Linked DNA regions of Homo sapiens. The protein of the gene in region 1 purifies or fractionates together with the protein of each later gene. This does not show direct contact. Each region holds a gene or a part of one and is shown in the gene's direction. Other genes may lie near its edges.

What was found.
Region 2: the proteins of KCNK18 (region 1) and PPP3R1 purify together in Homo sapiens (affinity purification with mass spectrometry; one large-scale study listed by BioGRID and IntAct). This does not show direct contact.
Region 3: the proteins of KCNK18 (region 1) and BMPR1A purify together in Homo sapiens (affinity purification with mass spectrometry; one large-scale study listed by BioGRID and IntAct). This does not show direct contact.
Region 4: the proteins of KCNK18 (region 1) and NOTCH3 purify together in Homo sapiens (affinity purification with mass spectrometry; one large-scale study listed by BioGRID and IntAct). This does not show direct contact.
Region 5: the proteins of KCNK18 (region 1) and FUT8 purify together in Homo sapiens (affinity purification with mass spectrometry; one large-scale study listed by BioGRID and IntAct). This does not show direct contact.
Region 6: the proteins of KCNK18 (region 1) and RMDN3 purify together in Homo sapiens (affinity purification with mass spectrometry; one large-scale study listed by BioGRID and IntAct). This does not show direct contact.
Region 7: the proteins of KCNK18 (region 1) and PTPRD purify together in Homo sapiens (affinity purification with mass spectrometry; one large-scale study listed by BioGRID and IntAct). This does not show direct contact.

What each region holds. Positions count from the first base shown.
Region 1 is NC_000010.11:117,207,489-117,210,799, forward strand, and holds the end of KCNK18 (potassium channel subfamily K member 18), read left to right. Parts: intron 1-2,008; coding exon 2,009-2,811; downstream 2,812-3,311. UniProt on the Homo sapiens protein: K(+) channel that conducts outward and inward rectifying currents at depolarized and hyperpolarized membrane potentials, respectively.
Region 2 is NC_000002.12:68,186,533-68,190,032, reverse strand, and holds part of PPP3R1 (calcineurin subunit B type 1), read left to right. Parts: intron 1-1,342; coding exon 1,343-1,519; intron 1,520-2,718; coding exon 2,719-2,778; intron 2,779-3,380; coding exon 3,381-3,500. UniProt on the Homo sapiens protein: Regulatory subunit of calcineurin, a calcium-dependent, calmodulin stimulated protein phosphatase. Confers calcium sensitivity.
Region 3 is NC_000010.11:86,889,119-86,892,618, forward strand, and holds part of BMPR1A (bone morphogenetic protein receptor type-1A isoform 3 precursor), read left to right. Parts: intron 1-943; coding exon 944-1,106; intron 1,107-3,008; coding exon 3,009-3,111; intron 3,112-3,500. UniProt on the Homo sapiens protein: On ligand binding, forms a receptor complex consisting of two type II and two type I transmembrane serine/threonine kinases.
Region 4 is NC_000019.10:15,158,538-15,160,766, reverse strand, and holds the end of NOTCH3 (neurogenic locus notch homolog protein 3 precursor), read left to right. Parts: coding exon 1-105; 3' UTR 106-1,729; downstream 1,730-2,229. UniProt on the Homo sapiens protein: Functions as a receptor for membrane-bound ligands Jagged1, Jagged2 and Delta1 to regulate cell-fate determination.
Region 5 is NC_000014.9:65,615,230-65,618,729, forward strand, and holds part of FUT8 (alpha-(1,6)-fucosyltransferase), read left to right. Parts: intron 1-748; coding exon 749-864; intron 865-981; coding exon 982-1,144; intron 1,145-1,860; coding exon of another isoform or gene 1,861-1,962; intron 1,963-3,500. UniProt on the Homo sapiens protein: Catalyzes the addition of fucose in alpha 1-6 linkage to the first GlcNAc residue, next to the peptide chains in N-glycans.
Region 6 is NC_000015.10:40,752,455-40,756,605, reverse strand, and holds the start of RMDN3 (regulator of microtubule dynamics protein 3), read left to right. Parts: upstream 1-1,351; 5' UTR 1,352-1,523; intron 1,524-1,815; 5' UTR 1,816-1,822; coding exon 1,823-2,009; intron 2,010-4,151.
Region 7 is NC_000009.12:8,520,503-8,524,002, reverse strand, and holds part of PTPRD (receptor-type tyrosine-protein phosphatase delta isoform 1 precursor), read left to right. Parts: intron 1-478; coding exon 479-490; intron 491-2,456; coding exon 2,457-2,726; intron 2,727-3,500.

The sequences.
Region 1 (3,311 bases):
CTACTTTGCTCAGCACTATGCCCACAGTGCATGCAGTAAGCACTCAATACTGAATGTATGCATGCATGAATGGATGAATGAATGCACATAGTTAACTGACGCTGCCATCAAATGGTACTTAGTGGAACCAGCCAGAGTGGCATGGAGTGCTCTGGAATGGATGCAAACTGATGAGACTCTTTGAGAGCCACAGCTCCCTCCCCTACACTTGGGACCCTGGTGAGGGTAGGCAACCTGAATGCCCACCTGCTCTTGGAGGGCAGAGCCTGAGGCCAAAGTTTGCCACAGGGAGCTGCACTTCTGGAGGAAGTTGGGGCTTAGCCAGCTGAGGAGTTGCCTTCAGATTAATTTACATAATTGGGCTGGGTTTTTCTGTATTAATCATCCTTTATGACATCAAAAATTAAACACAGGCATTAAATACAAAAGCTTTGTCCTCTGCTCGAATTGATGCTTGCCCGCTCCAGAAGATCTAGCCACCTGCGCTGTGGGGTTTGAGGTCTGTCTGCTCCTGCCCCTCTGTAGGTGCAAGGGGAGGGGAGGGGCTCCCGACGGGGATGGAGACCTCAGCGCATCCCTTCCTTTGCTTGGCTGCCTGGTTGTCTCTGATTGAATGGTCCTGCCCCCGGATGCTCCTGAGGGTGACAGCACTGGTTGGGGACCTGAGAGTCCTGTGGATTTGACCCCAACTCCACTGTGTATCACATGTATGCTCACGGCCAAGCTACTTCGTTTCTCTGTGCTTCAGTTTCCCCACCTGTGGATGGTGATAACAATACCTCCCTATGAAGGCTGACTGACACCCAGCCCACAGGAAGTGCTCACTAGGCAGCTAAGGTCTTGAGGGTGAGGACACCACCAGTTATTAATCGCGCACTGTGTGTCAAGCACGGGCCTCATGTAATCCTCCCAGCTAGTCAATACGCAAAGTAGGTATTGTCATCCCCATCTTACAGATAAAAAAAACCTGAAAATATGAGCAGTCAAGTAATATTATCATAAATAGCAGAGCTGGGATTCAAAGCAAGGTCAGTCAGAACCTAGATGCTGGGAGGCTAATGGCTTCACTGTCATTTAGGAACATGTTTGTCTAATCTGCTAAGCCACAAATGGCTCTGAGGGCAATTGTATTTTATTCATCTTCCATCTTTCTGTTTTTCCTAACACTGTGCACACTGCTGAGCACACCATGGGAACACAATAAGTGCCTCTTAGAAACAAAGAGCTCAGTCCTCTTATGGAGGACAAGGGTAGCTTTTTTTTTTTTTTGAGATGGAGTCTCACTCTTGTCCCCTAGGCTGGAGTGCAATGGCACAATCTTGGCTCACTGCAACCTCCACCTCCCGGCTTCAAGTGATTCTCCTGCCTCAACCGCCTGAGAAGCTGGGACTACAGGCGCCCTACACCATGCCCAGCTAATTTTTCTATTTTTAGTTGAGATAGGGTTTCACTATATTGGCCAGGCTGGTCTTGAACTCCTGACCTCAGGTGACCCGCCCATCTTGGCCTCCCAAAGTGCTGGAATTACAGGCATGAACCACCACGCCCAGCCAAGGGTGGCTTCTTAAAAGCCAGCACCTTCACAGAGGATAAAGGTGGCATTGGATATGATTACAAAGCCACCCATCCTCTCTCACTTGTACTCATCCTGTCCTTCCAGGTCAGCTGAGCCCTTCCTTTGGGGGGTGCTCAGAAATGGCCAGAACAGAATCAAAGGCAATCTGTTCACCCCAAACCTGTGCTGGTCCCCTGCCAAGGACATTTCAAATCAAAGACCTGGATATCAGTTGCTCCTTATCCTAAAGGGAAGCTGTTTCACTCCTTTCCCTCCCACCAAAGCAAGCCTAATGCCAGACCAGTGGCTGAATGCTTTGAGATGAGTATTTTCAAAAACAATGTGTAAAATGTCATGCCAAGGAGGGGAGATGGCAGAAGGTCTCTTTAAAGCTTTTGGGGGGAAAAAGGGAAGGGGCCAGATGCAAACTCTAAGCTCCATCTTCTTTTTCAGGCTATGGCTACATCTACCCCGTCACCAGGCTTGGCAAGTACTTGTGCATGCTCTATGCTCTCTTTGGTATCCCCCTGATGTTCCTCGTTCTCACGGACACAGGCGACATCCTGGCAACCATCTTATCTACATCTTATAATCGGTTCCGAAAATTCCCTTTCTTTACCCGCCCCCTCCTCTCCAAGTGGTGCCCCAAATCTCTCTTCAAGAAAAAACCGGACCCCAAGCCCGCAGATGAAGCTGTCCCTCAGATCATCATCAGTGCTGAAGAGCTTCCAGGCCCCAAACTTGGCACATGTCCTTCACGCCCAAGCTGCAGCATGGAGCTGTTTGAGAGATCTCATGCGCTAGAGAAACAGAACACACTGCAACTGCCCCCACAAGCCATGGAGAGGAGTAACTCGTGTCCCGAACTGGTGTTGGGAAGACTCTCATACTCCATCATCAGCAACCTGGATGAAGTTGGACAGCAGGTGGAGAGGTTGGACATCCCCCTCCCCATCATTGCCCTTATTGTTTTTGCCTACATTTCCTGTGCAGCTGCCATCCTCCCCTTCTGGGAGACACAGTTGGATTTCGAGAATGCCTTCTATTTCTGCTTTGTCACACTCACCACCATTGGGTTTGGGGATACTGTTTTAGAACACCCTAACTTCTTCCTGTTCTTCTCCATTTATATCATCGTTGGAATGGAGATTGTGTTCATTGCTTTCAAGTTGGTGCAAAACAGGCTGATTGACATATACAAAAATGTTATGCTATTCTTTGCAAAAGGGAAGTTTTACCACCTTGTTAAAAAGTGAAGGTTTCATTATCTCTCAGGTGACAGACACTGGCTGAGCTGGTTTTCTTGTGTTGTCTTTCAGGGTCATGCAGCCTGTCACCTGAGACCTTCAGTCTTGGAGACAAATCCCTTATGAGAGCCAAGTTCAGTCTTGAGGCCCTGCAGAAATTTGGCCAATGCCCTTTGTATCAGGGCATTAGGAAAAAAAAACTATCACCATTCCCCAAAGTCCAATTAATTTATCTGTCTTCCTTTTTTAAAGCATCACCTCATGTAGATGAAGCAACCTTATGGATGTCCCTGCTTTTCTTGAAATATGAGAAACAAAACACCTTTATTCTTGGAAGTTGTACTTTTAGTTAAATTAAAATCTTCCTGAGCTGTTCTTTGTTACCTGAAAAAGAACTAGTGCGAACAACCTCTTTTCTTGAATGACTGCATGAACGCATGTAAGACCAGCCCAATCCCAGCCCCTGTAAAATACATAGATGCCGGGTGTCACCAAAATGACAAAGTAGA
Region 2 (3,500 bases), on another chromosome or scaffold:
GTGAGGATGCCATATATTTAAGCTGTCAAAACAGCTTGTATTTGTACTCTTTTCTAGTGTTGTGGGCCATAATACATATATACTCATGGGCAGTATAACATTTGCCTTCTTAATTTTCTTTTTAAAAGTTGTTGTATTTAATTTATTTTTATTTTTAATTTTTTGAGATGGAGTCTCACTCTGTCACTCAGGCTGGAAAGCAGTGGCGTGATCTCAGCTTACTGCAACCTCCGCCTCCTGGGTTCAAGCGATTCTCCTGCTTCAGCCTCCTGAGTATCTGGGATTAGAGGTGCGTGCCACCATGCCCGGCTTATTTTTGTATTTTTAGTAGAAGTGGGGTTTTTACCATGTTGGCCAGGCTGGTCTGTAACTCCTGACCTCTAGTAATCTGCCCACATTGGCCTCCCAAAGTGCTGGGATTACAAGCGTGAGCCATTGCGCCTGGCCCGTTGTATTTAATTTAAAAAATATATTTGTAATTATTTCTATAAAGTCATGATCAAAATTACTTATGTGTATTAGTCAGATATTTTAAAGGAATGAAAATGATGTAATTTAGAAGAAAATAGCTTAAACCTGTTGTTTCAAGAATTTATATAAGAGACCTGACACTGAATTTTTATGGATTACTTACAAACTAATGTAAACATTTCTTTTTAGTTATTCTTTCTCTTTTAAAGTGTTGATAAGTGAATTTTGTTAGCTATTTGGTTGTTAAGTAAAAACTGGCTTATTTGCTCAAACTTGCAAAGTATCTCTGGAAGAATATTTAGGAAACTGGCAACGTTGCTTTCAGAGAAAGGAAATGGATATCTCGGGGTGGGAAGGGAGGGAAACTTTGAATTTTGAATACCCTTTGAATTTTTGAGTCATGAACTATTAGAAATAAAGTAAATTAAAATTTAACAAGAAAAATGAAAATGAAAGTACTTCGGTTTACAGAACAGAGGTTGATTGAACCTGTCTGGTAGAACCTCCGTGATCAGCTTAGCATTGTCAGTCCTGAAATAATCTTTTGTGACCTCCATGATCAGCTTAGCATTATCCGGCCTGGAATATCTTGAGACTCAGCATACAGCGGATGTATGTAATGGCAGGTGCAAACAAACAGAAAGGTAACCAAATACAAGTATTTATGCTGTACTTACTCTATTAGAATAAATTAGTTAACATAATATATACCTCTTTTTATCAAATTGGAAATTAAACTATTGGATAACTGTTAGATTTTTTTTCCCCCCTATAACTATTAAAATTTTTTTTAAAATCTTGCTACTGCCCATTAGAAAGGATTTGGGAACATTTTTAAAAAATTCTTGCTTCCTTTTTTGTTTGCTTTTAGTTGATGCGGATGAAATTAAAAGGCTAGGAAAGAGATTTAAGAAGCTTGATTTGGACAATTCTGGTTCTTTGAGTGTGGAAGAGTTCATGTCTCTGCCTGAGTTACAACAGAATCCTTTAGTACAGCGAGTAATAGATATATTCGACACAGATGGGAATGGAGAAGTAGACTTTAAAGGTAAGAAAGTAGTTATTTTTTATAACCACAAGTTATCTAACCTATTTGTATTCTTACAGCTCTGTGTAAAAAAAAAAAAAAAGTGCTTATATTCCTAGTGACCTTACAATAATAGATTATGTTAAAACCTCAGCGTCTGTGGCATATACACCTTAATGAACTAGGACATTTTACTCTGTGGTTCATAAATGATTAAGTCATTCTTTAGGATAATCTACCAAAAAGCAGGGGGGACTCAGTATTTCCTTTCTTTTTAGAAAATTAATCTCACTTTAGGGCAATACTGTATATTCTTATATACATTAGAAGCTGCAATTCCTTTTATTTATTTATTTAATTTTTTTGAGATGGAGTCTCGCTCTTTTGCCCAGGCTGGAATGTGGTGGTATAATCTCGGCTCACTGCAGCCTCCGCCTCCTGAGTTCAAGCAATTCTCCTGTCTCAGCCTCTTGAGTAGCTGGGATTACAGGCATGTGCCACCACACCTGGCTAATTTTTGTATTTTTAGTAAAAACGAGATTTCACCATGTTGGCCAGGCTGTGGTCTCGAACTCCTGACCTCAAGTGATCCACGTGCCTCAACCTCCCAAAATGCTGGGATTACAGGCATGAGCCACCGCGCCAAGCCAGTTTTTTTTTTTGTTTGTTTTAACAAGTAAATAAACATTTCACAAGGGATTTGTCAATAGATTTTATTTTAGTTTGGACAATTATAAGTGGAGGGATATAAAACTGATTATGATTTAGTGCTTATCAGGCAGTGAAGAAAAATGATCATTTGTCATGAAACTTCTAACAGCATATTTGATTCACAATTTTGAAACAGAAGGCTAAAGTTTTTTGTGTGTGTCAGAACAATTTATAGTGGGTTTTTTTTTAAAGCCCCTTGTTACAGTCATATTCTAAGAGGGAAGAGTTAAACAACTTAAATAATATGTTTTGAGTGTTCTTTTATCTTGCACTTAACAAATGTTTGTTCAAATTGATTGACCTTAGAGAACTCCAAGTTCAAATAAAAAAAATACAGAGAGACCTTGTTTGTTGAGGTTTCAAATTTGGCAATTTTATTTTTAAACGTTGCTAGTAGTACTTCTGTTTTGCAGCAAGGAAATATCCTTTTGTGGGTATGTAAGGTAAATATGTTTTTTGTGTAAAAAATTGGAAGTTCTGATTTGTGAACATTTTTAACTCTTATTCAGAATTCATTGAGGGCGTCTCTCAGTTCAGTGTCAAAGGAGATAAGGAGCAGAAATTGAGGTGTAAGTATTTTTCTTCACTGACTTCATTCTCTTATACTACCATCATTTCATACTGTATTATAGAATGCTTTTTAAAATAATGAAAAAGATGTCTTTTATTCCAGATCCTTAGACATAACTGAAATTTTACATTCTGGTGAAAATCCTTTTAGGACATTTCCAACTACTATATTTGAATAATGTGTCATTGCTGCTTTTAGTTGGATAGAAGGAAAACAGTTTCTTTCTGCTGAAAACAGCCATGTAAAACTACATATGTAATTTAGAGAAGAGATTTTTTTAGTGAAAGTGGGAAGAAATGTTCTAAAGAACCGGAGAGGTTGGAGTTGTTACTATATCCAGTTTTATCTGTGTAGAAACTGAAGCTTAGCAGGGATAGTTAACCTACTCTAAGCTCCACCAAATCTGCTCAGGCAGTCTCAAAAGCCCGTACGTTTAACCAACTATGTTAAACTGTGCCTAAGGACAACTCTATTTTAAGGAAGGAGACATCCTCATAGTCATAATTTTGATGTTTGTCAGTTTACTATTTTCTTTCTTACTGAAAGCATTTACTTGTGATTGCTTTGTAATTGGAATTGATTTTCCTTCCTTTTTTTTAGTTGCTTTCCGTATCTATGACATGGATAAAGATGGCTATATTTCCAATGGGGAACTCTTCCAGGTATTGAAGATGATGGTGGGGAACAATCTGAAAGATACACAGTTACAGCAAATTGTAG
Region 3 (3,500 bases), about 30 Mb from region 1:
AATTACTAGAACAGTTTTTTTAGTTCCGTTCTGCTTCCAGCCTGAAAGATTTAGTACCAAATATGACAGTATCTGTCACTGCAGGCTGCTAGACTCTAGTGTAAGAACATAGTTCTATTTCTGTGAGCTAACTGCTGCCCTTCTATAACCTTCAGTTTCTGCCAGCATCGTCTGCATTCAAACCAATGACCTCGAGGTGAAAATCTCCAGATAACATGATTGGTCCCCATGCTCTCATGATTTCCTTACTTAAGCAATTAAAGGCCAAAGCAAGATGCTTAGTAACTCCTTTTCCACATAGAGGCACAAATAAAGGAAAGCTGGTCACAAGTTTTGAACCAAAGAGTTAAAAGAAGAATCATAACTTGTCTCTATTTAATGATTGGAAACTCTCACAGACTTCTGTGAAGTCTCTCCCCCTTTTGTACCTTTCTTACAAGTGATGACTATATACTTTTACCTGGCAGGGGAGAGACCACGGTCACGAAGGTGGTTTTCCCAGGGCGAGGCTTATTCATTGCACTCCAGATGTGCTGACCCCTGCGATTTCCCCAAATGTGGGAAACTCAACTGCATAATTGTGGTGGTGGGGGACTGCGTTCATGCTTTTCCCTGGTTAAATTAAAAAATTTTTAAGTTATTTTAAAAATATAAAAAACAAGATTTGACTGTATTCTGCCTTGCGCCACTCTTGTTTGTCTTTCACTAGTGCAAAAATTGTGATATAGCTGTCTTCATGTACCCCGCAATACCTGGTGCAGTAATTCTGTGCATAATAATGTATGTCTGTTTGTTGTATGAATGAAATTTATATTTCTAAAGAAACATGCTAGCTACAATTATTGTGATAAGAAAGCTTAACAACTTTTTCTCATTGAAAATTGTCACGAAACAATGAGCTTTTCAGAAATGATTTACTTACAAATTCCATATTTGAATGCAGGACAGAATCTGGATAGTATGCTTCATGGCACTGGGATGAAATCAGACTCCGACCAGAAAAAGTCAGAAAATGGAGTAACCTTAGCACCAGAGGATACCTTGCCTTTTTTAAAGTGCTATTGCTCAGGGCACTGTCCAGATGATGCTATTAATAACACATGCATGTAAGTATTTTATGCAGCCCTTCTTAAGAGTTAGGAGAATAGAGTTGCATTTAGTGCTATTTTAAGAATTATTAAACTTGTCTGCGGTTTTTTTTTCATTCATATATAGTATCTTTCCAGAAAGCCAAAAAGCCTTTTGTTTTGTATATTAGAACATTATTCCATTAAATGATTGATAGGTGAGTTACTATATTAGAATTATGTTATAATGCAGCTTTTAAAATAAGATCAAAGGGATCTAGTATTTAACATCTGAGTTTTTAATGATCTTTTAATCTTAAATTTATTGATGCTCATTTTAGAAAACTTAGAGGTTACCAAAAAAGAAATCAGAAAACTCACTGACAACCTCCTACTTCTTTTTAATTTAAAAAAAAATTTTTTTTTTAACTATAGACAGGATCTTGCTATGTTGCCCAGGCTGGTCTCAAACTCCTGGGCTCAAGCAGTCCTTCCACCTCAGCCTCCCAAAGTGCTGGGATTACTAGGGTGAGCTGCCACACCTGGCCTCCTACTTCTTAATTAGTTGAAATATTTTGCAGATATATATAAATCATATTGTGTTAATTAATTTTATGCTTTTTTCTTACCTGTGAATTTACCAATCCAAATCTGATTTATAAAATGATTTTAATTTTTCTAGTGTATTTCGTGTTAGCTGCACAACATGTTTATATATGATCATGTAATTCTAGTCCATATTTGTTGGAAACATTGACATATTGACTTAATAAGACCAAAAAAAATTGCCTGAACAACTCAACCTCATCAGTCAATTAATTGTCTCCTTGTTATAGAGGCAATAATGAATGTCATGTTTTATACTTTTAATAATTGTATGTTCCCTGAATGGACCAGATAGAAAGCATGAAACTTTACACGTAAACTCTTGAACCTGCATGACGGTCATCGTGTCTTAGGTTTGCTGCTTGTCCCCTGGTGGTGGTGGGCTCTGCGTGGCTGACTGTGACTAGTTGTTCATTTTTACCTTGGTGAGAGTTTGCCAGCAGGGAACTGCTCTCTGCTATGTCACCAAATAATGTTTTGCTAAACTTCTTGTCTGTAGTACCTGCCTGATGTAATGGGCTGTCTGTTAGTAGCTTAGTAACCCAGAGTAAAACTGAATCATCCATTTTAACAGAATTCTGCCCCACACTTAACATTTTCTCCTAACAGAAAACCAAGAATTCTGCAAAATTCTTCTAAGTAGAAGCAGCACAATTCCTGATATTAACAATAAATAGGAGTACAGAAAAAGCTTTTAGAAATTTCTCCCATACCTGTTAAAGTCTATATGAATATATTAAGGGGAAACTCCAGGATGCTAACACTAAAATAAGAATTTCATTATATATGTATGTAAATTTATTGAAAATTTATTCAAAAGTCCTCTCCCTGTTTTCCCATCATATTCAGTAAAAGGTGCCTTTTAGTCCCCTTTTTTTTGGTCATTAAGCCTATTTGTATGTTTCAGAGAAAAGTTTGTTTTTATCTATTATCATATACAATATGGAAGTACTGAAAAAATGGGTAAAAAGAGACAAAGTTATTTTAAAGTATGTTTTCAAAACATGACATAAAATTTTATAAATCAGCTTTCTGTGATCACATGACTGATTAGCAAAGAGAAGTCACATAACTCCTATGTGGAGGACTTGTTTAATTGAAATCCTTTTCTTCTTGACAAAGGGTTGTCACTGGCCTTTTAGATCTTGGCTCAGACATAACTTTCATTTGTCTTAAAACCTCTGGCGTTGCCAATAAATCACGTGTGAATGCAATTCTAAGTCACAAAACAAAGTATTAAAGGCCATCTGTACCTGTTCACATTCAGACTCAAATTTCGTTAGTACTTTCTATGTGAATTTATGTTTTGTTTTGTTTTGTTTTTTTCTGTTTTAGAACTAATGGACATTGCTTTGCCATCATAGAAGAAGATGACCAGGGAGAAACCACATTAGCTTCAGGGTGTATGAAATATGAAGGATCTGATTTTCAGTGCAAAGTAAGATATAATTTGGGACCCATGAGACAAAGAAGGGAGGGGCCATATGAAAGCATCGATTTCCCCCAGGAGAAACATGCCTGGTGTACACATCGCTGTATGTTCACATCAGTAAATATATTGGAGGAATACCTACTGTCTAGATTCTGTCCTGTATTCATATGTAGAATTTATAACTAAATCATTTCTGAAAAGCTAATTGTTTGATTACAATTTCCTTTTTTATTTCCATAGACAGCACCTGGCTCTGTTGCCCAGGCTGGAGTGCAGTGCTGCGATCTCCGCTCACTGCAACCTCAAGCCAGCCTCCTGCCTCAGCCTTCTGAATAGCTGAGACTACAGGTGCATGCCACTATACCTGGCTAATTTTTGTATTTTTTGTAGAGACA
Region 4 (2,229 bases), on another chromosome or scaffold:
CCTGCCCAGCCACTTCCCTTGTCTGTTCCCAGCTCCCTTGCTCAGGCCCAGACCCAGCTGGGGCCCCAGCCGGAAGTTACCCCCAAGAGGCAAGTGTTGGCCTGAGACGCTCGTCAGTTCTTAGATCTTGGGGGCCTAAAGAGACCCCCGTCCTGCCTCCTTTCTTTCTCTGTCTCTTCCTTCCTTTTAGTCTTTTTCATCCTCTTCTCTTTCCACCAACCCTCCTGCATCCTTGCCTTGCAGCGTGACCGAGATAGGTCATCAGCCCAGGGCTTCAGTCTTCCTTTATTTATAATGGGTGGGGGCTACCACCCACCCTCTCAGTCTTGTGAAGAGTCTGGGACCTCCTTCTTCCCCACTTCTCTCTTCCCTCATTCCTTTCTCTCTCCTTCTGGCCTCTCATTTCCTTACACTCTGACATGAATGAATTATTATTATTTTTATTTTTCTTTTTTTTTTTACATTTTGTATAGAAACAAATTCATTTAAACAAACTTATTATTATTATTTTTTACAAAATATATATATGGAGATGCTCCCTCCCCCTGTGAACCCCCCAGTGCCCCCGTGGGGCTGAGTCTGTGGGCCCATTCGGCCAAGCTGGATTCTGTGTACCTAGTACACAGGCATGACTGGGATCCCGTGTACCGAGTACACGACCCAGGTATGTACCAAGTAGGCACCCTTGGGCGCACCCACTGGGGCCAGGGGTCGGGGGAGTGTTGGGAGCCTCCTCCCCACCCCACCTCCCTCACTTCACTGCATTCCAGATGGGACATGTTCCATAGCCTTGCTGGGGAAGGGCCCACTGCCAACTCCCTCTGCCCCAGCCCCACCCTTGGCCATCTCCCTTTGGGAACTAGGGGGCTGCTGGTGGGAAATGGGAGCCAGGGCAGATGTATGCATTCCTTTGTGTCCCTGTAAATGTGGGACTACAAGAAGAGGAGCTGCCTGAGTGGTACTTTCTCTTCCTGGTAATCCTCTGGCCCAGCCTCATGGCAGAATAGAGGTATTTTTAGGCTATTTTTGTAATATGGCTTCTGGTCAAAATCCCTGTGTAGCTGAATTCCCAAGCCCTGCATTGTACAGCCCCCCACTCCCCTCACCACCTAATAAAGGAATAGTTAACACTCAGTGTTGTTGGTCTGTGTCTAGGTAAGGTGGGGAGTGGTGGCAGTGGGACTTCTATCTCCCCCACCCAGGGCTAACTTGAGCTCCCATCTTGGGGTAAATACATTTGACTTGCCAGTCTACTTATGCTTCCTCTTTTGGCAGATGACTACCGATTGGATTAGTGGTTGTCACCTGACTTAAGCTGAGCCAATCAGATTCTTTTGCTCGAGAACTTTCTTTAATGGAGAGGCTAAGAAAGTTGTCAGTTGGTGGAGCTCTTAAGGTCACAATCAGATTTAGAAATATCAGTGGCCAATTCGAGGTGGTGGGCAAAGAGACAAGCAAACAGGGCAGAAGAATGAAGCTAATATTCAGGGAGAATCAGAAATGAGAGCTCAAATGGCTCCTTGAGGGCTGGGGGGGTTATCTCGGCTCCCAGTGCAGTTATCAATTCCAGTTAATTGAGTGTTCATTCCATTGAGATCAACAGGTATTTATTAATTGCTTTCTAAGTATCTGATCATGGTTCTGCATGAATTTCACTTTTACTTCATGCTCCTATGGGTTTTGGAGATAACCTTGGACCCATGTAATAAATACTTCTTTACTTGTGCCAGCTTCGGTGGGTTTCTGTTACTCGCAACCAGTCGTGCTCCAAGACAAGGTTCTGTTTACACTGGTGTCTTCAGGAAAGGAGGATAGGATTTAATGTTCGTTGATTCTGTCAGTTGGAGTGCTCCTGGTTGCAAATGACACAAAAGTCTACTGGCTTAAACAAGAAAGGGGTTTATTAGCTCATATAAATTAAAAGGACCTACTTCAGGGGAGAATTGATCTAGTGGCTCAAATGTGGTCAACAATGGCTCAGTTTCTCTTCATCTCTACAGCTTTCTCTGGGCATCAGTTTCATCTACATGCTCCACATGGCACCCAGTAGAACCTCTCTTCCCGACATCACACAGCTCCAGCCTTCTCTCTGTGTTATCAAAATAGGTGCCATATTGCTCCTTCCAGGGAAGAGAGAAACTCCTAGTATTGTGATTGATTTTTCTTTTACTTTCTTCCTTTTTTTTTTTTTTTTTTTAAGATAGAGTCTTGTTCTTGTCACCCAGGCTG
Region 5 (3,500 bases), on another chromosome or scaffold:
TGAGTAGCTGGGACTGCAGGCACACACCACCATGTGCCCAGCTAATGTTTTCATTTTTGTAATGATGGGGGATTGCTGTGTTGCCCAGGCTGGCCATGAACTCCTGGGCTCAAGTAATCCTCCTACCTGGGCCTCCCAAAGTGCTGGGATTATAGGCATGAGTGGCTACACCTGGCCCAATTTTTTTCTAATATGTTTTATCTTCTACTCTTGTCTTTCTTTTTTCTATATAAGACCAATGCTTAGTAGTCTAATGTCATGAATTGAAAGACAGATTTACATAGTCTGATATTATAATTAATTTAGAAATACATTATATTTGATGTTTGAGCATGTCCTTAGACACATGTTCAGATATGCTTCGTTATTCCCTTTAAGCCTTTTCTTTACTTTTTCCTTCACTTTTGTTACTCTCAATGCTAATGAATAATTGACCTCTTTGCCACTGATCATGGTACTCTGGGGATGAAAGATTTTTAGGAAACAGCTCTAGAGGTTTGTTAACTCCTAGAAGATCATAGATTTCTGAAGTAGATTAATATTTTCTATTTTTCGTTATTATCATTTCATTGTCCATTTCACTGGTTAATCCTATACCTTTGAAGAGAAAATTCCATTTGGTACTACTTTTGTGCTATATGGTTCAACAACTTATGGAGTTTACAGTATAAATGTTTTAGAAAGTGAGCTTGTATTTTGTTGCACAGTTTGAAAGCTAAATGTTTACATTATCTTCCCTAAACTACAGGATACCAGAAGGCCCTATTGATCAGGGGCCAGCTATAGGAAGAGTACGCGTTTTAGAAGAGCAGCTTGTTAAGGCCAAAGAACAGATTGAAAATTACAAGAAACAGACCAGAAATGGTAGGTGATTATACAGTGTTTTCCCCTCCTCAGTATATGGGCTTTAGCACAGATAATTGAAAGTTTCCTTTTATCAAAATGTTGGAAATGCTACAACTCTCTATTCTTTGACTACAGGTCTGGGGAAGGATCATGAAATCCTGAGGAGGAGGATTGAAAATGGAGCTAAAGAGCTCTGGTTTTTCCTACAGAGTGAATTGAAGAAATTAAAGAACTTAGAAGGAAATGAACTCCAAAGACATGCAGATGAATTTCTTTTGGATTTAGGACATCATGAAAGGTACTATTCTCCTTTCACATTTTATTTGGGCTTTAGAAAAGATTATAATCTAAGAATGAGAAACAGACTTGTTAATCCATCTGTTGAGTGGTAAATATTAATAGCACCTACAATATTTAAGAGGCGAAGAGTACCTGAGGTCCCAAAGGATGGTAATTGCCAAGTGCAGTTCATCAACCAAAATATACCACCAGAAAGTATTAATTAAAATGTATTTCTAGAAATCTTTACATTCTAAATAAATTCTGAAGGTAGTGGTGCCAGCCAACAATACATTAAAATATCTTTCTATAAATGTTCTTTATATATAATCAGTATTTGAAGTGGAGTGTGCAGTTTTGCATTGCGGTACATTGGAACTCATAGTGAGTCCGATGGTTACATTTCTAATTCAAACATTAAAAACTTTAAAATAGCATTTTTTTAAGGATTTCTAATGAAAGGTTAACAGGATTTTTTTTTTCTTTAAGTAAAAAGGAGCATTCTGTTCATTGTTCTTTCATTAGTTGCTGGAAAGAGGTACCTGAGATCTGCCTGGTTAAATTTGTTTCTCCTATGCACACGTTGCTAAATAATATGAAGTTTATCTTCCACAGAAAAGAAAACATTTTGGTGCTGTTGTATTCATGCAGAACAAAATGTATCTGAAAATCATTATAAATACAGTGAAACCTGTCTTTAGGCCTGTTATATTTAAAAGTCTATGTTTCCAGTAGGATTCTGATGGCAATTACTGTCTCATTAGTGAACAATAAAAGAAAAATTGTTGTATTAGCACAACCTACTACTGTGAAGAGGAAAAGAATTACCCCATACAAGTAAGAGATTTCATATTTATTAACATCAGCAGCAATATTATAATGATTTTGAAAAATTGCTTGGTTGTTTTAGGTGAAATTATAAATAAAAATCTGTCTATTGGAATCATTTTAGCATTAATGAATCTACAGAAATATGATAGCATGGATTTCAAGGGGCAGTGAATTATTAGGCCACACATTGGACAGACTTTTTGATATATTTAGCCCAACTTGCAGTCAGGCCATACTTAGACCACTAAACCAAATGCTGACTAATTCTGTCATTAATATTTCTCTACCCTAAAGCTGATTCTAGGCACGAAGCATCTCTTAAATGGAATTTTGTGCTTGTGTTCTTTGCTTATCACAGTTTTTTAGGCCAATTCACATCTGAAGAGGATTTGACTTGGGTAGACTATGCTGTATGTAAAGGAGAATTTTGGCCACTGACTTCTGATGGAATGTTTAATTTTAAGATTTGAGTAATTGGGCTGGGCGTGGTGGCTCATGCCTGTAATCCCAGCACTTTGGGAGGCTGAGATAAGAGATCTCTTGAAGCTAGGAGTTTGAGACCAGCCTGGCCAACATGGTGAAACCCCGTCTCTACCAAAAATACAAAAATCAGCCATGCATGGTGGCACATGCCTGTGATCCCAGCTACTTGGGAGGCTGAGGCCCAAGGATCACTTGAACCTGGGAGGCAGAGGTTGTGGTGAGCAGAGATCATGCCACTGTACTCCAGCCTGGGCAACAGAGCAAGACTCTGTCTCAAAAAAAAGATTTGAGTAATCAAATAACTTGAGAATTTAATTTTCCAGTGTTTTTAAAAATTAATTCATATATATATATATATATATATATATATATATATATATATATATGTATGTATATATTTATTTATTTATTTTTTAGATGTGGAGGTCTTTCTATGTTACCCAGGCCAGTCTTGAACTCCTGGTCTCCAGTGATCCTCCCTCGTCAGCCTCCTGTGTAGCTGGGATTATAGGCCTGGGCTACCATGTCCAGCTGAATTGAAATAATTCTTTAAGGAATTATTTTGTAAATAATAATATAATTTGTTTATATAACTCGCATATGTTTTGTGACCATATGTACAAATGAAAAGTGAATATAAGAAATGGGCCCCTGAGAAACTGATATAAATCAGTTTTCCATTTTGTTGTTGTTGTTGTTGAATTATGATTCCTTACAGTGCCATTTAGTATGTTAAATAATGGTAGTTCATTGAAAACAAAAATGGTAAGTAAAGGTACCCAAGTCAGTTTATTTTCCTGTCTTAAACAGAAATGACAATGAATCTGGGACATAACTTCATAGGGTAGTAATTTAACTCCAGGAAGCCAGATTAGAATGCAGTAATACAAATAATGAGCAAAACACAATCAAACATTAGAGAAATAACCCTTAAACTGACGGACGTACAAATAGAAAGGACTTTTATTATGTAGAATATACCCTTTTACTGACCATTTTCAAGATCCTTAAGTATAAGAATTAAAATCAAAACAAACTTTTAGGTTTGCCTCTGGTAATTT
Region 6 (4,151 bases), on another chromosome or scaffold:
GGGCGGGGGAGGAGGTTGCAGTGAGCCGAGATCGCACCACTGCATTCCAGCATGGGCGAAAAGAGCGAAACTCCGTCTAAAAAAAAAAAAAAAGTATAATGGAGGCAATAGAGCCACAGGAGCAAAGCAGGGTGAAAAGCTTAATTTCACCAAGGTGGTGATCTGGGAAGGTTTCCAGAGGAAATTTTTATTTCCTCCAAAATAAAGTGTATATATATATATATACTTTATATATATATAAATATATTTTTTGTTGTTGTTGTTTTTGTTTATTTGTTTTGAGAGGAGGCCTCACTCTGTTGCCCAAGCTGGAGTACAGTGGCGAGATCTCGGCTCACTGCAACCTCTGCCTCCTGGGTTCAAGCAATTCTCCTGCCTCAGCCTCCCGAGTAGCTGGGATTACAGGCGTGCACCACCATGCCCAGCTAATTTTTGTACTTTTAGTAGAGACGGAGTTTCGCCAGGTTGGCCTGGGTGGCCTCGATATCCTGACTTCTGTTGCCCAGAGTGATCATGGCTCACTGCAGCCTCGACGACCTGGGCTCAAGTGATCCTCCCATCTCAGCCCCCAGAGTATCTGTGACTACAGTCACGTGCCACCACGGCCGGCCTCCTGTATTCTTATATGTATACAATATCTCACAATTAAAGGGTAAATAAATATAAGATCTAGTCAAGGGTATTGGGAGGACTGGCCTAGATATTTCTTTCACTAAACTAAATTTTAACTCTTAAGAAATGTTCACAATAAAATTGTTATCATAGTCCATAAAATCGGTCTTTTTAGTTGCCACAATTATAAGAAGTTGCATACAATTACAAGAGTAAAACAGAATTATAAGACAGCACGTTAGGTTTAAGATTTATGGCCGGGTGCGGCGGCTCACGCACTTTGGGAGCCCGAGGCGGGCGGATCGCACTTTGAGAGACCAGGAGAGCGGGACCCAGTCTCTACAAAATAAAAATAAAAATAAAATGTGGGGAGAGCGTGACGTTTTCCAGGTACAGAGGGGAGGTCCAGGCAGAAGCGCAGGTAGAAAGTGTGAATATGCTGAGCGTATTCCGGGAGCAGCAAGTTAAGCCGGTGTGACCGGAGGGAAATGGAGGCCTGGCTGCCGGACGGTGAGGGTGACTGCGCGAGCGTCCGCCCAAGAAGTCTCCCTGCCTTCCCGCCTTTCCCCTGTCTTGGGCCCCTTCTTGCTTTCCTTTCGCGCTCTGTGCTGACTCCGCCCCTCCGGCGGCGCCCGTGGCCCCGCCCCTGAGGGAAACAGACAAGGGGCGGGGCCGGCGCGGTCATCTCTCTGCGCCTTCCCGCAGGGCGCCGAGCACCTGGCGCCGCCTGCCTGACGTCACGGTCACTGACAGCGTGAGCCCGCGGCGGCTGCTGCCATGGTGGCTGGCGGCCGGGTAAGGGTCTGAGTGGATCTCCTGCCAGGCCAGAGCGCCTTCGGGGGCCGCGGCGGAAGGCCAGGAGTTTGCAGCCAGGGCGCCGGGTTTGTGGTCTGCAGTGTCGTGAGGCTGAGGTGGGGGTTGAAGGCCCAGAAGCCGGACTCTGTGACCCGGGTCGGGGGGTGTACTGGAGGGGCGGCTACGTCCAGGCTGGGTGAGAAGAGAGGCAGTGGGGCCCAGGAGGCTGGAGGAAGCCTTAGGGTTCAGACTGGGGTGCACGTAGTCGAGAGCTCAGGGTTTGGGCAAGGGGATACCTGCCGGGGTTCAGCCTTGAGGGTGGGTTTACCGGGTTCACGAATCTCTCTCTCTCCTTACCCCCGCCCGCCCGCCCGCCTGCCTGCTCCCGGTGACTTCTGCTGGCCGCAGGTGCAGCATGTCTAGACTGGGAGCCCTGGGTGGTGCCCGTGCCGGGCTGGGACTGTTGCTGGGTACCGCCGCCGGCCTTGGATTCCTGTGCCTCCTTTACAGCCAGCGATGGAAACGGACCCAGCGTCATGGCCGCAGCCAGAGCCTGCCCAACTCCCTGGACTATACGCAGACTTCAGATCCCGGACGCCACGGTAGGAGCCCGTCTCCTGAGACCGCGGTCACTGCAGACTAATGGGCCTGAGGTCTGGGCTGCTTTCGGTGGAGACTGTGGGACAGGGTAACGGAGAGAAGTGCTTTAGGGTTTCACTTTTTTGGAAGCTTGTTGAAAAAGCAGTCGTCGGGCTGGGCGCGGTGGCTCACGCCTGTAATCCCAGCACTTTGGGAGGCCGAGGCGGGCGGATCACCTGAGGTCAGGAGTTCAAGACCAGCCTGGCCAACGTTCAACCAGATGTCAACATGGTGAAACCCCATCTCTACTAAAAATACAAAAATTAGCCGGGCGTGGTGGCGCGGCCTGTAGTCCCAGCTACTGGGGAGGCTGAGGCACGAGAATCGCTTGAACCTGGTAGGCGGAGGCCGCAGTGAGCTGAGGTTGCGCCACTGCACTCCAGCCTGGGTGACAGAGTGGGACTCTGTCTCAAAAAAAAAAAAAAAAAAAAAGCAGTCGTGGTTTTCTCTACTCTTTCGCCTGTACTCACAAGAAAGTATATTTCAAAAAGACTGTTTAACTTTCACTTTTAGTTCTGGCCACAATAGTGCTATGTGGGTATTAAAGGCACTTGCTTAGTGTTGGGTGAGGTGTGTAATAAGTAGAGGAAGAGTCCAAAAGAGGGCAAAAAGAATAATCTTGTAGGGATTAAAAGTCTTGAGGCTTATGTATTAAATCATATATTAGAATTTGAAGACAACTTGGCAACTATCAAGACAACTTGGCAACTATCTCATTCAAGTTTTTTTTTCTTTTTATCCCTCCTATGAGGAAACCAAGATTCAAAAAGATGGTATAACTTTCCTGAGGCTGTCACAGATTAAGTGGCAAGGTTGGGCCTGGTCACCTGGTCCAGTGGACTTTCTACGGCATAGGGCTAGGAGCACGCTTAATGCAATTGAAGCTGAATGTGGCTGGCAGCCTGTACAGCTGAAATGAGTAGTTCTTGCAGATTTGTCAATTCATTTGAGCAAAGGATCTAGGGCTGGTTCAAACTACTACCATCTTTGTGCAAGAGGAGTGTTTTTTTTCTTTTCTTTTCTTTTTTCTTTTCTTTTCTTTTTTTTGAGATGGAGTCTCGCTCTGTTGCCCAGGCTGGAGTGCAGTGGCATGATCTTGGCTCACTGCAACCTCCGCCTCCCTGGGTTCAAGTGATTCTCGTGCCTCAGCCTCCCGAGTAGCTGGGATCACAGGTGCGTGCCACCATGCCCAGCTAATTTTTGTATTTTTAGTAAAGATGGGGTTTCCCCATGTTGGCCAGGCTGGTCTCCAACTCCTGGCCTCGGCCTCCTAAAGTGCTGGGATTACAGGCGTGAGCCACCACACCTGGCCAAGAGGAGCGTTTACATTATCTCACTCCCATGCTAATTGGAAATGAGTGTTTTCTCTGATTGCCAATGTTAGATGGTTTGGAAAAGTTAGTTTTGGAGTCTTCAAAGAGCTATCAGCTTAGATTGCAAATGATTGTCAGCATTTTATAATCTTGTGGTAATCTAGTATTGGAGTGTGCTTCCTTCCCTTGTATTTTGTTTGTAATTGCTTCGCAGTAGTGTTTCTTCTGAGATTAGAAGAAAGTGGCCACATTGCCAGGGATCTTTCTTGCACTACATTCTTGAGCATTATTGGATGTATGTTGTGGCCTGGCCTAGTTTTTTACCAGATTTCCTTTAAGAAGGGATTTATGCTTGCCGTATTGTAGGGTCCTGCCTCTCTGGTTTCTTTTTTGTTTTTGCATTTTCCAGTTCAGTTACCATAGGTGGCTGTCACTTTGCTAGCATTTCACTGCTGGAATTTACTCTGAGATCTAGGGTTGGGTCAGCAGGGCTTAGTGACGGTGTCTTTCTGAGGCAGTTTGGATGGGCTTTTTCTGGTGTACCTTTTCTCTTAATAACTGCCCCCTTTCTCCTAGTCCTTCTCTGATATACTAAATGAAGTTCTGGGAGAAACTCCAAGTTTTCCCTACTATTATTTGTGAAGTGAGAGATCAGAATTTGAGGGAGCTCAGTTTTAGTTTTAGTTTTGCTATGTGGTTGGTATTGACTCCTTGGTATTGGGCACTATATGGTGAGGTGAAGGTTTTTGTTTTTTTTTAACTCTAGCAGGACAGCTGTCCTCCTTCAGGTTC
Region 7 (3,500 bases), on another chromosome or scaffold:
AAAAGACTGAGAGGGCTTTAAGTTACAATAGGATGGGTTCCCTTAAGAAAATACCTAGCTTGATTTTGAAATTTTTGTTAGAGGTAATTTTGTTTCCCTGGGGATGTTTTTCTCTCCTTTCTTTTTTTATGGAGTCTGGGGTGGGGAAATATGAAGAAAGTCATTTCTTCTCTAAATTCTTCGAAAGTCCCTTGATCCTTTTTCCACAATAGTGACCTCCCTTGCTGCATGAGGCATGTGTACCTTCTTCCATGGAAAATTTCAAAATGATGCTAGCTATTGTTTCTAATACCATGTTAGTCTGTGAGATATTGCTAACTTTTCCAGCTGAGATAGGAAGGATGAACTAGAGCGAATAAAGATGTTCAAGTAGCAGTTGAAAGCCTTGATATGGCCTTTTTACTCTCTCTGTGTTTCCCTTGTTTTTCTCCTTTCCTCATTTCATTGTGTTCTGCATCAAACCCCCTACATCCCTCAGAGCTGCGAGAAGGTTGGTGTGTTTTTTACTTTTTACCCACCTTACAAAACTATTAATTAAACCAATAACAAAGAATACAAATGAAATGAATGTAGCTGCATTGTGTTCTTCTTTTGGTTAATGGTATGTTTTAGCAGAGAATGCCCTGGCCATGGCTTCTGGTGCTTGCTGGTGGTATCTAACTGTGGTGCATGGTGGGAGAGAATGTACCTGGGTGCATGGTAACTGGTAACACTTAACTCTGTAAGGTCCAGTGAACTTGGTCAGTGTTCCTGCTTTCCTTCCTGCTCCACTGTCCCCATCTCCCACCCTGCCTTTAATTTCTGTCTTATAAGGATGCCTGCTGCCCATAGAATGACTTTTTCTAGTTTCTCCCCTAATCCCAAGCATGAAGACTAAACTCTCCTCCATTTTTCTTGATATGTTCTTTGATACCTCAGAGTCTACACTGGCTCCTGCTTGCTTTGTGTAACCTCTGTGAATTGGCTGCAGGAGGCATGCTTAGCTTTCTCTTCTTCTCCTATGACTGTCATTCACCCATGAGGCCATTGCAGTGAGCCATCTCAAATAAGCGGAGGTTTATCTCGACCTTAAGAGCAGCCAAAAAGTTTTCAGACAGAATTACTTATCTTCTTCTTGGGGTTATGAGGTTACTTATCAGTTTATTTATAATTTTTAAAAAATCTTTATTAAATGTATTTAAGGTGTGCTCCCTAAAGATTACCCTCTAGATCTCAAATTCTTATGGTATGACATTTTGCCAGTAAAAGCCCCAGATGAAACCAATTTATCTTTCACTTTCTCCTTGTATCACATCCAAAACACATTTACTTAAACACACATAAACCTGCAGATTATCTGAAGCAGGAACACTGAACTGAAATTGCTTGGTAATTTTTCTGTGTTATGTTGCTTTAATATGATCTCTTCTCTTAATGTCATGTCCTGCTGTATGTTTTAGATCCAGTGTCCCTCAATTTGAATGTGGGCATAAAAAGCCTTTTAAAAGATTTTGTTGTCATTTATGTTGTTTTACCTTTGATATGAATTGAATGGAATCCTGTATGTGAAACACCCAGCTCCCTTTCTGAATTTGCAATCCTTACCTTTAACAACTTGAGCTTAATCTTCTGTCTTTCAACCCTGTCATCCCCTAAGTCCCTGTGTTTCAATCGTTATACTTTACCTCCCCCTTTCACGTTTATTTCTATTGCCCCCTTATTTCTTCTGCGGTCATTGCTGTCTTGGATTCCAGCCATTCTTTCAATATCCTTAGCACGGGCCTTGAGATTCCATCTTGTGCATGCCTTGCATGACCCAATCCAGTATCTCTACTGGTGTTAGCCTGTTTCTTCTTCTGTGACTGTAAATCAATATGTATATACATTTCTGTGTTTGTTCCAGTGTTAGTGTGAGGTCTTGAGGCTGCATCCACTATGAATCTGAAAACATAAAGTGCACTTTCAGTGTACTCTAGGTGATGTTTTCCAGGGCTGGGATGTGACAGTGTGGTCCCACACCTACATTCACATCAACTGGAAGTGCACAGCACTGAAGTTGGTTTTGATACTCAACTTAAACATGCTGGTGACCTTCCAGCCCCCTTTTCTGCATATACATGCCTGCATAGAATCATTGTTATATGCCTGCATGTATATGTTTTTGTGTTTATCTTATGCATGATGTTTGTGTATTGTTAGTTTGTAGATAGTTTTTTGTGGGGCCCTTGTAGGTCTGAATCAACTTTTGTATTAGTGTGTCTAAGATATCAATGACTAAACTAAATAAATAATTCTGTGTATACACACACCATACTTGTATGGTCTGTATTATCCACAGTTTTTCTTTATGTTTTGTTTTTGGACAATCCACAATGTTTCAATTGTTGAATCGTGTCTGTACGGTGCATGTCATGTGTTTAATAATCCACTTTTTCTTGCCTTGTATATGTTATCATTTCCCTTGTGTTTTGTTCCAGTTCGCCGTGTCCCACCAAGATTCTCTATCCCACCCACTAATCATGAAATCATGCCAGGCGGAAGCGTTAATATCACCTGTGTGGCCGTGGGGTCACCAATGCCTTATGTAAAGTGGATGTTGGGGGCAGAAGATCTGACACCTGAAGATGATATGCCAATAGGAAGAAATGTGCTAGAACTGAATGATGTAAGACAGTCAGCAAATTACACCTGTGTTGCTATGTCAACACTGGGTGTCATTGAAGCAATAGCACAGATCACTGTCAAAGGTATGCTCAATGGATTATGCTTTGAGGATCTGGGTACACTCAAGCCAAGTGACTAATGCCTCTAGAAAGCCCATCCTTGAAAATCTAAAATAATTCATTATTCAGCATTTTAAATGTGTGTATAACCTAATCATATCTGTGGTATTATATAACATGCATAAGCCTAGATAGGCGGATTTTTTCTTGGAAGTATCTGGCAGCCTATGTAGAGATAATCATCAGAATATTAAAAGACAGTCCATGGAGGCCCAGGCACTAACCAGACAGAACTAGGAATTTTACACATGGTCGACCATTATGGTGGGACTGATGTGTACAGTCTACATACTAGACCAGAACCTTGATAAGAACCCCAAGAAAAGTCAATATGAGCATTAATAAATGCTTAAAATTTCTAAATACAAAGGAAAAAGAAGAAAAAAAAAGTTGAAATCAACATAGTCTAGTAATAGATGATTTAACTTTTTGGTGAGCCCTACTATTAAAAATCAAAAGGCAAGTAAGAGTATATTCTGTTGTAGTTTTATCTTTCACCTTGCATAGATGAGTGCTCAAGGAATATTCTTTCCTTTAAAAAACAGACTAAATATAACCAAAGTACTATATTACATGAATATTTTTGAACTAAAGAGAAAGAGTACAAGCATGTAAGGGTACCGTTTTTTTTTCCCCTAGTGTTTATAGAATTCTAGAAAGTGTTTGCAAATTGAGTCAGACATAGGGCAACTTAAGTTTTCTGCAGATGGCTAGAACTATTGCAAAATGAACACAAAT